Regions from separate parts of the Homo sapiens genome. Here region 2 is linked to region 1. Evidence: fine-mapped expression QTL. A gene starts in region 1. The other region holds a variant in brackets. All regions are shown on one strand. Distances are from middle to middle.

The links. PIP is the estimated chance that this variant, and not a neighbour inherited with it, causes the effect.
Region 2: its variant is the best candidate, but not a certain one, in a credible set for the expression of BEST1 in transverse colon (GTEx, PIP 0.65).

The regions. Positions count from the first base shown.
Region 1 is chr11:61,947,407-61,952,772 of GRCh38, forward strand. It overlaps BEST1 (bestrophin 1), which reads left to right and starts at 2,945. Exons shown (of 11, transcript NM_004183.4): 1 at 2,945-3,021; 2 at 4,365-4,552. The coding sequence starts at 4,401.
Region 2 is chr11:61,972,681-61,978,052 of GRCh38, forward strand. No RefSeq gene overlaps it. Among named protein-coding and RNA genes, the nearest start is that of FTH1, 7.7 kb to the left of the region's middle. RefSeq lists an enhancer at 103-282. The variant C/T (reference allele first, on the strand shown) is at 2,814.

The DNA of each region.
Region 1 (5,366 bases):
CATGACTTTGCTGTGTGCCTGAGCCGTGCCTGGCTAACTGGGGACATTTTCATAGCTGAGACCCAGTAGGAGAGACCATGACTTGTGCCAGGGTGTGCCTGTCTCAGCTCTGGGGCAGGGCCAGGAGCAGCTGCTCATGGGATGTCTCTGGGGACATGCTGGGGCCTCTGGGAGGGGAAGGGAGACTGGCCATGCACTGTCTATGGTCCTGGTGGTACTCCTGGGATATTGCCAAGGAGCCTGCGGTTCAGGGAACAGGGAGGAGGGACTCTAGTGTCTCCAACTCCCTCTCATGGCTCTATGGCTGCTGGTCGGGGTCAGGGAGATGAAGCAGTGCCAGCTCCGTGGTCTGCACTGATCCTGACCAGTGAACCAGGCTTCCCCAGCCAGAGCCAGCTAGTCAAGCACGCTCTCTAGTGGCCACCACAGGGAAGGCAAGAACTTGTCTCCACAAAGGCAGGATTTTCATTTATTCCTTCAGAGAGTACAGAATGAGCATCAATGTTCCAGGCATGGTGCCAGGCATGTGTGTTAACTTTAGTTAAAACATACTTATTGGCCGAGTGTGGCGGCTCACTCCTGTAATCCCACCACTTTGGGAGGCCTAGGTGGGAGGACTGCTTGAACTTAGAGCTCAATACCAGCCTGGGTAATGTAGTGAGACCCTATCTCTATAAAAAAAAAAAAAATAGCTGGGTGTGGTGGTGTGCGTCTGTAGTCCCAGCGACTTGGGAGGCTGAGATGGGAGGATTGCTTGAGCCTGGGAAGTGGAGGTTGCAATGAGCCAAAATCACACCCATTGCACTCCAGCCTGGGTGACCTTGTCTCAAAAATATAGTTATATATTTACTTATATATTTATATGTATAAATATATGTGTACATACAAATATATTTGTAATATTATAGACATATTAATACATATTTACATATGTTAATATATAAATATATATAATATATATTTATCATCTTCTAAATGGAAAGCTCTTGAGTTTCAGGATGTGTTGGTTGGGAAGGGAATACAGGATAGGGAAATAATCCATTAAGCAATGACTCAGCACAGGCCATAAAATCAGAATCACCTGGAGAACTTGAACAATCCCAACACCTGGGGTCCATCCAGACCAATCAAATCAGAATTCGTAGGGGTCAGGCACAGGCACCAGTGGTTTGGAGAGTTGACGGACACATGTCCCATCCATCATTCTCATTCGGCTGCCAAGGTAGGCATCGTTGTCCCATTTTGCATATGAGGAGACTGAGGCTGAAGTGAACCTGCTTCTTTCCCCATATCAGTTGAGGACAGCGATGGGGCAGCGGGGAGGCAGTAAATACTCCTACAAGGCTGCCTCTAAAGAGAGTCTTATAATAACAACAGCTTTATTGTTTGCCATGATTAGAAAAGTATTCAAGGTCATTGCGAAATAGTGTTTTTTTTTCTAGGCAGATAATTATATAAAGGCAAAAATGGTGTGTGGGGGTGGGGGACAAGGGGAGGGAGAGCATTAGGACAAATACCTAATGCACGCAAGGCTTAAAACCTAGATGATGGGTTGACAGGTGCAGCAAACCACCATGGCACACGTATACCTATGTAACAAACCTGCACATCATGTATACCTATGTAACAAACCTGTACATTCTGCACACGTATCCCAGAACTTAAAGTGAAAAAAAAAGTGGTGTGTAGAAAAATCACCTGCAATCTCAGCATAGTTAACGCTTAGTACATTTCAGAGAGAGAGGGTGACAGGAAAGGGAGGATGAGAGTGGGTTTAAGACACAAGGTCATATTATAAAATCAGGGCTTCTGGAAGTTTAGTCCCAAAACCACACATCTCATAATCCCCTGCAGTGCTTGATTAAAATGCAACATCCCTAAGGCCACAGACTCAGACTCTGGAGAAAGATCCAGAAAACTGCCCGTTTAATAAACATTTGGGCGATTCTTACGGCCTCTAAAGACCAAGAACCACTGCTGCCTAGAGCTCTGCTCTCTTCATTGAACAATACAAGAGGAGTGTGTAGGTAGACACCCACCACTTCCAACAGCTTAGGAGAGCCCTTGAGTATGGATTGATGTATTAAAATTTATTGAATCACATGCTGAGATTTTCACCAGCTGCCCGTGGGGATCTGGGCATTTATTCCCATATTGCACTGGCTGGCTGGAAGCCAGCAGCATAAACTCCAGGGCTGTTCTGTCAACCCCCACCAGACTCACCCCCCTCCACCAGCCCCGGCAGGCTTCTCCTTCCATCTCTCTGAAGCAACTTACTGATGGGCCCTGCCAGCCAATCACAGCCAGAATAACGTATGATGTCACCAGCAGCCAATCAGAGCTCCTCGTCAGCATATGCAGAATTCTGTCATTTTACTAGGGTGATGAAATTCCCAAGCAACACCATCCTTTTCAGATAAGGGCACTGAGGCTGAGAGAGGAGCTGAAACCTACCCGGGGTCACCACACACAGGTGGCAAGGCTGGGACCAGAAACCAGGACTGTTGACTGCAGCCCGGTATTCATTCTTTCCATAGCCCACAGGGCTGTCAAAGACCCCAGGGCCTAGTCAGAGGCTCCTCCTTCCTGGAGAGTTCCTGGCACAGAAGTTGAAGCTCAGCACAGCCCCCTAACCCCCAACTCTCTCTGCAAGGCCTCAGGGGTCAGAACACTGGTGGAGCAGATCCTTTAGCCTCTGGATTTTAGGGCCATGGTAGAGGGGGTGTTGCCCTAAATTCCAGCCCTGGTCTCAGCCCAACACCCTCCAAGAAGAAATTAGAGGGGCCATGGCCAGGCTGTGCTAGCCGTTGCTTCTGAGCAGATTACAAGAAGGGACTAAGACAAGGACTCCTTTGTGGAGGTCCTGGCTTAGGGAGTCAAGTGACGGCGGCTCAGCACTCACGTGGGCAGTGCCAGCCTCTAAGAGTGGGCAGGGGCACTGGCCACAGAGTCCCAGGGAGTCCCACCAGCCTAGTCGCCAGACCTTCTGTGGGATCATCGGACCCACCTGGAACCCCACCTGTGAGTACAAGGTGCCCCAGGTGGACTGGGCTGGGGCTTTGAGGCCTTCAGGGTTGGATGGCCATCTTGCGTATTTGTGTGGGATATGCACACACAGGCAGCACATGCGCAGGTGTGTGGGCACCTGTGTGTCTGTGCAAATGCCCTGAGGTGGGAATGAGCTTGGTGTGCATCAGGCACAGCCAGCCAGTGTGGCTGCAGCAAAACACACAGGGAAAGAATGGAGGGGGCATCAATCACTGCTTCAGTAAATTTTTATTGAGCGCCTTCTACGAGAACACAAGAGGAGCTTCCATTCTGAGGAGGAAACAGGCAGGAAACAGGCAGATATCCTGTATAATTTCAAGTAGTGATAAGTGCTCTCTAGAAATATCAAGCAAGGTGAGGAGACACAGAGCACCGGTGGCAGTGGGGCTCTATTTCCAGGTTGGATGGTTGGGAACATCCTTTCTAAAGGGAACCTGGAGTGGGAAGGAACCATGCAGGTATCTCAGGAAGAGCTTCCTCCAGGCAGGAAGATCAGCAGGTGGAAAGGCCCTGGAGCCACCATTCAGTAAACATCATTTGAGCATCTCTACCAGCTAGGTTCCATTATGGGAATGGGAATATGGTGGTGGACAGGGCTGCCTGGTCCCTTCCATACTTCTCACACTAGGGTGGTTGAGAGAGCTTGGGAGCTAACGAACAAGATGGGCTGAGAACACTGCCTAGCCCAGAGGACCTGAGCTTAGTGTGTAGACATTGCTGCTGTTACTGCCTTTGTCATTGTATTATTTATTTATTTATTTATTTATTTTTAGACAGAGTTTTGCTCTTCTTACCCAGGCTGGAGTGCAATGGCGTGATCTCAGCTCACTGCAACCTCCACCTCCTGGGTTCAAGCGATTCTCCTGCCTCAGCCTCCTGAGTAGCTGGGATTACAGGCACCCGCACCACGCCTGGATAATTTTTTTGTATTTTTAGTAGAGACAGGGTTTCACCATGTTGGCCAGGCTGGTCTCGAACTCCTGACCTTAGGTGATCCACCTGCCTCGACTTCCCAAAGTGCTGGGATTATAGGCATGAGCCACTGCGCCCAGTGATTATAGAAAGTTAAAGGCACATGGCAATGCACACGCCTATCTACGTCTTCCCTGCCAAAGCAAAGGGCAGCCTCTGGGCTCACTTTCTTGCGTTTCTACTTCCAAAAGGCAGTCAGAACTGGCAGGGCCTTGGAGACCACTTCATCCACCTCCTAGGGTCCCTATGGGAGAGTTGAGGTCCAGAGCAGGGAAGGGTCCTGACAGGCTCTGACCAGGGCCTCTGATCCCTACAAACCCCCAATCGGTGTCCCTCTCTACCAGGACCCAAGCCCACCTGCTGCAGCCCACTGCCTGGCCATGACCATCACTTACACAAGCCAAGTGGCTAATGCCCGCTTAGGCTCCTTCTCCCGCCTGCTGCTGTGCTGGCGGGGCAGCATCTACAAGCTGCTATATGGCGAGTTCTTAATCTTCCTGCTCTGCTACTACATCATCCGCTTTATTTATAGGTAAAGCTGGCAGGGCTGGGCCGGGGGGCCTGGGAAGGATGTGGCTGGGGCTGGGAGCTCCTGGGGGCCTCCCAGCCAGCTCAGGGGCCAGTGTACCAGTTCACTACAAGACTAAGCTGAGCTCCTGACCAGGTCCTGGGCACTGGAGCTGAGGCTGGGGCTGGGGGCTGGGGAGAGAAAAGAAGTCAGACTGAGAGGCTGCTCAAGCCAGGCCAGCAGGGTTTTAGCCACCCTTCCTCCAACCCCAGGAGGACCCCTGGAGCCCAGGCTTTGTCTGGCCCCACTCAACTGGCCTGTTTTACTGAATCCCACACAGACTCATAGGCCCACATAGTACATTAAAAAAGAGAGAGAGAGAGAGAGAGAGAGAGAGAGATGGAGTCTCACTGTGTTGTCCAGGCTGGTCTCGAACTCCTAGGCTCAAGCAATCCCCCTGCCTTAGCCTCCCAAGGGGCTGGGATTACAGGTGTGAGCTACTGCACTTGACCAACCACATGGTACTTTTTTTTTTTTTTTTTTTTTTTTGAGACAGGGTTTCACTCCATCACCCAGGCTGGAGTGCAGTGGGGGCAATCTTGGCTCACTGTAACCTCTGCCTCCCAGGTGCAAGCGATTCTCCTGCCTTAGCCTCCTGAGTAGCTGGAATTATAGGCACACACCACCACGCCTGGCTAATTTTTTTTTTTTTCTGTATTTTTAGTAGAGACAGGGTTTCATCATGTTGGCCAGGCTGGTCTTGAACCCCTGACCTCAAGTGATCCACCCACCTCGGCCTCCCAAAGTGCTGGGATTACAGGTGTCAGCCACCATGCAC
Region 2 (5,372 bases), 25 kb after region 1:
CAAACCGTTCCACAGGCTGATTGCAACAAAGAAAAACCTCAGGGCTGGAGACATAGATGAGGATTGGGAGAGAATGGGTTACGTGGTATTTTAACTGAAGAGCTGATGTTTTAAATGTCTGGGATTTCCCCTGAAGTGAAGTGAAGTAAAGCAGGAAATTCGAGTTTTGAAATTCAGACCAAAGGAAAAACAATACTAAATCAGTATTTGGGTACATTTCTGGATGATGCAATCATACTCACAGAGCTTGTCCTGAAATCATTTCTTGAAAACCCTTGAGGCCATGTAAACTCAGAGTCTAGGTACTTGGAATCCCCCGCTTCCAGAAGGTTAACGAGAGCCACAGCCTGCGATGTTTGAGGACAACTGTGAATGGAAGGCAAGGCCCATTTTTGAATGCTAACTCAGGCCTCACTGCACTCCAGACTTCTGCCAGAGACCCTATCACATGCCCTAGCTATGTGTTTACCTCCTGGCTGGACTTTGAAGTTTTAAGCTGTGTCCCCAACCCTGGCACAGCCCGGGGGTCCCTCCAGTTGTAGCAGTTTGCAGCTCTGTACCTCTTCTCTGGAATGGTCATGCCCAGCAGAGCATCGGCTCTCTACCTTTGGACTAGCGGCTCCTGGAGATCAAGGGTCTTGCCTTTAACAGTCCCCAGCTGTATCCTTCCCAGTGAGCCCCTGGGATATGCACACAGTGAAGAGGCCACGTGGCCTCTCTGAACTTTGATTCCTGTATTATTTATGGTATCTGAAGCCAGCCCTCTCCCATGCTACCTTGAGTACCCGCTCTGGGCGCCCTCTTTACCACAGTTCCCGTTGCACCCCGTCAGCTGGGACCCAGCCACATGGCATCCCCACATCACCCCATCCAGGCTCAGCTGTGCTCACCCTGGCCAAATCAGGGGAGGCCCAGCTCAGCGCAGGTGACAGGTGGGAGCCATGGCTAGCAGCCTTGGGAGGAGGATGAAAAAACAGAAAAATGTCTTGCAAGTCTGGGCAGGGACCTCAGCAGCCAGAGGCCTTGGCAGCCAGGGGCTGGGAGTGCCTCCTCATGGAAATGGGAACTATGCCTCAGGAGTTTTCACTGTGTAGACACTCACTATGGTGGAGGGGAACGATGGCTGCACAGCACAGTCCCTTGAGCACCGGGTCGGAGGGAGTAGGGATCAAGAGGATCTGAGAGATCAGCAGCCAGGGACTAACCCAGCTGGGAGGCAGCAGAATGAAGCAGCCGGAAAGAGCGGCTAGGGCTTTCCTGCCCCCAGAGAAGGGGCACAATCCAGGAGAGCTAGTGAGTCTTGCTGGGCCAGCAGATGGGGCCTCGGTCAGCAGAGGGAAATCCTGAGTGTCCTATGAGAGGGTCAGGACCCCAAAGATCTCACCCTCAGCATGGATGAGGCCTCCCTCCAGCCTGTGGCTGTTCCCACTGTCCCAGGCTCCCTATTTCCTGCCTCTACCACCTCCTGCAGTCCCACTCTCTCTAATTTGTCTCTTTTCTGTCTGTCCCAGCATTATGAAATACAAAGATAAGCACTTTGTGATTACAACTCCTTAAAGGAGGCCGGTACAGTGGCTCACACCTGTAATCCCAGTACTTTGGAGGCCGAGGTGGGTTGATTGCTTGAGCCCAGGAGTTTGAGACCAGCCTGGGTGACATAGCAAGTCCCTCTCTCTCCAAAAAAAACACAAAAATTAGCCGGGTATGATGGCACAGGCCTGTAGTCCCAGCTATTCAGGAGGCTGAGGGAGGAGGATTGCTTGAGCCCAGGAGTTTGAGACCAGCCTGGGTGACATAGCAAGTCCCTCTCTCTCCAAAAAAAAAACACAAAAATTAGCCAGGTATGATGGCACAGGCCTGTAGTCCCAGCTATTCAGGAGGCTGAGGGAGGAGGATTGCTTGAGCCCAGGAGTTTGAGACCAGCCTGGGTGACATAGCAAGTCCCTCTCTCTCCAAAAAAAAACACAAAAATTAGCCGGGTATGATGGCACAGGCCTGTAGTCCCAGCTATTCAGGAGGCTGAGGGAAGAGGATTGCTTGAGCCCAGGAGTTTGAGACCAGCCTGGGTGACATAGCAAGTCCCTCTCTCTCCAAAAAAAAAAAAACACAAAAATTAGCCGGGTATGATGGCACAGGCCTGTAGTCCCAGCTATTCAGGAGGCTGAGGGAGGAGGATTGCTTGAGCCCAGGAATTCGAAGCTGCAGTCAGCAATGATTGTGCCACTGCACTCCAGCCTGGGCGACAGAGCCAAACCTTGTCTCTAAAAAAAATAAAAAATAAAATAAAACTCCTTAAGTGCTCTCCACTGCCCTTGGGATATAATTGTAATTCCAGGGTATGGCCCAGCCACTCACCCCCAGGCTTCTCTCTAGCCCTCCAGGGTTCCCCTCACACCTTGGGACTTGGCACAGCTGTTTGATCTGCCCAGACGGCCTGCCCCTCACTCTTCTGCATGAAAAAGTACCCAGCCTTCAACACCGGGCTCAAATATGCTCCCAAAGCTCCCTGCACTGCCCCGCAGAGCTGAGAATTTCCATTCTTTGTGCCCTCCAGCACTCCGAGCGCGTGGTCTCCACTGCCACGCAGTATTACAGTGACCTGCTCCATACCCACCTCCCCCACAGCAAGGGAACCTCTGCCCTGTTTATCTTGGCCATGCCTTTGCCTTTCCCACCTCAGCACCTGGCAAAGTACTCACAGTTTCACAGGCTCCCAGACTACCGACAAATATGGGCTGGATTTAACTTGGACTTAGCTCTTAGCCCAACTCTTATTCATCTTTCCTGTTGCTGAGCGTTAGGCTGCCCCACCA[C/T]TACCCCGTGCCTCATAGGTTTTTTGTTTTTTTGACAGTCTTGCTGTGTTACCTAGGCTGGAGTGCAGTGGGGCCATCTCAGCTCACTACAACCTCTGCCTCCCGGGTTCAAGTGATTCTCCTACCTCAGCCTCCTGAGTAACTGGGATTACAGGCATGCACCACCATGCCCAGCGAATTGTTGTATTTTTAGTAGAACAGGGTTTTGCCATTTTGCTCATGCTGGTCTCGAAGTGCGGCCTCAAACAATCCGCCCACCTCAGCCTCCCAAAATGCTGGCGTGAGCCACTGGGCCCGGCCAGGTTTGGTTTTTCCATCTTTACTTAATTAAGACTACCAGCTGTTTCTACCTCCCGTATGGAAGATGCTGGGAATTGGTGAGTCTTTCTGGGGTTTCAGGATTATTCCTAGGCAGAGACCTGAAGACACTGTGAGGCAGTCGGGGCTGGGACCAGCGCGGCCATGGGGATGGAGATGTCACAGTCACAGGCTCTGTGGCTCTGAGGACCAATTCCTGTGGCTTGCTTTTGTGGCCACAGAGTGTTTCCTCAACTGGAGGAATCTGTGGGCTGTCACTAGGGACCAATGTGGGAGGAAAGCAAGAAGGGTTGGTATAAAAATCAGCTTGCTACTACAAAACAATGTCCTATCCTTCCTGGCGGTGGGCCAGTGCATTGTTGGAGTTTTCATTCCATAAAATAACAGATTTTTACATAAAGTAAGTTGACACCTTCGGGGCTGACACTGACAGCACCTCTGAGTAGGTAGGGCAGGTAGCCCGTGCTGGCAGCAGAGGTTTCCTTTATCCAGTGAGGAAACTGGAAGTCAGAGAGGTTAAGAGACGGCCTTGCCTAAGATTGCGCAGCTGGTAAGAGACAGGGCTCTGACCAGAATCTGGACTCTGATTGTGGTGCAATTTTCTGAATCTGGTGCCCTGACACAGCCATGACGGCAATTCTTAAACTCAGCACATACATTACCCTTAATCTCGAAGCATGCAGGAAGAAGAGCTCCAAGATTCCACTTGCTGAGGCTTCTGAAATATCCCTGCAGGTGGAGAGCACTTCCTGCAGCCCTGAATCCTGAAGGCGAGCCAGCACCCAACTTCGGTGGGCTTCAAGCCACTGGAGTTGGCCGAGGGTGCTTTCAAAGTAGTTGCTGTGATTCTACCAGCAGCAAAGCTGTCACGGGTGATCTTTGAAATTAATGGGCTGATTTGATTAGTAACTGAAGTCTGTTTGCTTGGTGGGAGTTTTGTGGTTCTTTGGATGGCACTCTTGGGGATCTCGTGGCAGGGCTTAGCGAATTGGACTTGGTCTTGAGTTATCTGGACTTGGTGCTAATGGCTGGCAGGCCCAGGAGATGCCTGGGCAGCCCGTAGACTGGGGCTATCCAGTGGCATTCTGAGCAGGGCAGTGGGTCTCGGCCCACATGGGAGAGCTAAGGGTATTTCTGGAGCATGTAATTCCCAGGGACCATGGCTGGCTCCTCAGACCCCCATTACTCCCACTGTGCTTGGCTGGTCCTCCCAGGGGCTGGGGGCCTCTGCTCAGCCACAAGACACACCATATTAGGGAGTGGTGGGAGATGCTTCCCTGAGGGTCTCATGGTACCTCCTTCGTATGTAGGATCTGAGAACCATATAAACTTGCCTAAAAGAGTCTCGGGGCCTCTGGAGCTGAAGCTGTTCACATGCCGGGAAGCATAGGATGACCCACCTCCAAACTGGGGCAACACCAGCTCCTCCCCTGGGGCCTTAGCCCACCCTTGGTTTTCTGTGCGGAGGGCTCACCCACCTTTCTGACAAAGCTTCTGATGGCTCAGAAGCCAGTTGGCCTGAGTCAGAGCCAGGAGAGCCTTCCCATGGGAAGGGGCTTTACATGCTATTACCTTTCTCATCTGTTTCCAGCTGCACGGATGATATGCTAACCCCCTGTCAAACATCCCTGCCTTTTGTAATTCTTTGAAAGCATTAGTTGGAACCAAGTGGCTCTCGTTTTTCCCCACTATTTACTCACCTATCCAGCTGCCCTTTCAATATCGTGGGTGTGTATGTGGGTGGACAGGGGTGTGTATGTGTAGTGGCAGGAATCCGGATGTTTTGCTTTTTGCTTTTTTCTGGAATTGATTTCTCCAGATCCATACCTACTCCCCAATATCCACCTGTCTTCTGGACACTAGATCCAGATTTTCCTCTGGGGAACTATTTCCCTCCCTCCAACCTCTGTGATGTGCTATAATTGGAACTGCCTCCATCCCTAGATTCAGGGATAGACATGTTTTGTTTTACTTGCAACAGATTTTTCAGTCAACTTACCTTTTATATCAGGGGTCCCCAACCCCTGGTCCATAGACTGGTACCGAAGGTGCATAGACTGTGCACCTCCAGGCTGCATGGCAGGAGGTGAGCAGTGGGTGAATGAACATTACCTCCAAGCTCTGCCTGCTGGTTATCCCAGCTCTGCCTCCTGTCAGATCAGCAGTGGCATTAGCTTCTCATAGGAGTGTGAACCCTACGGTGAACTGCACGTGACAGGGATCTAGGTTGTGCGCTCCTTA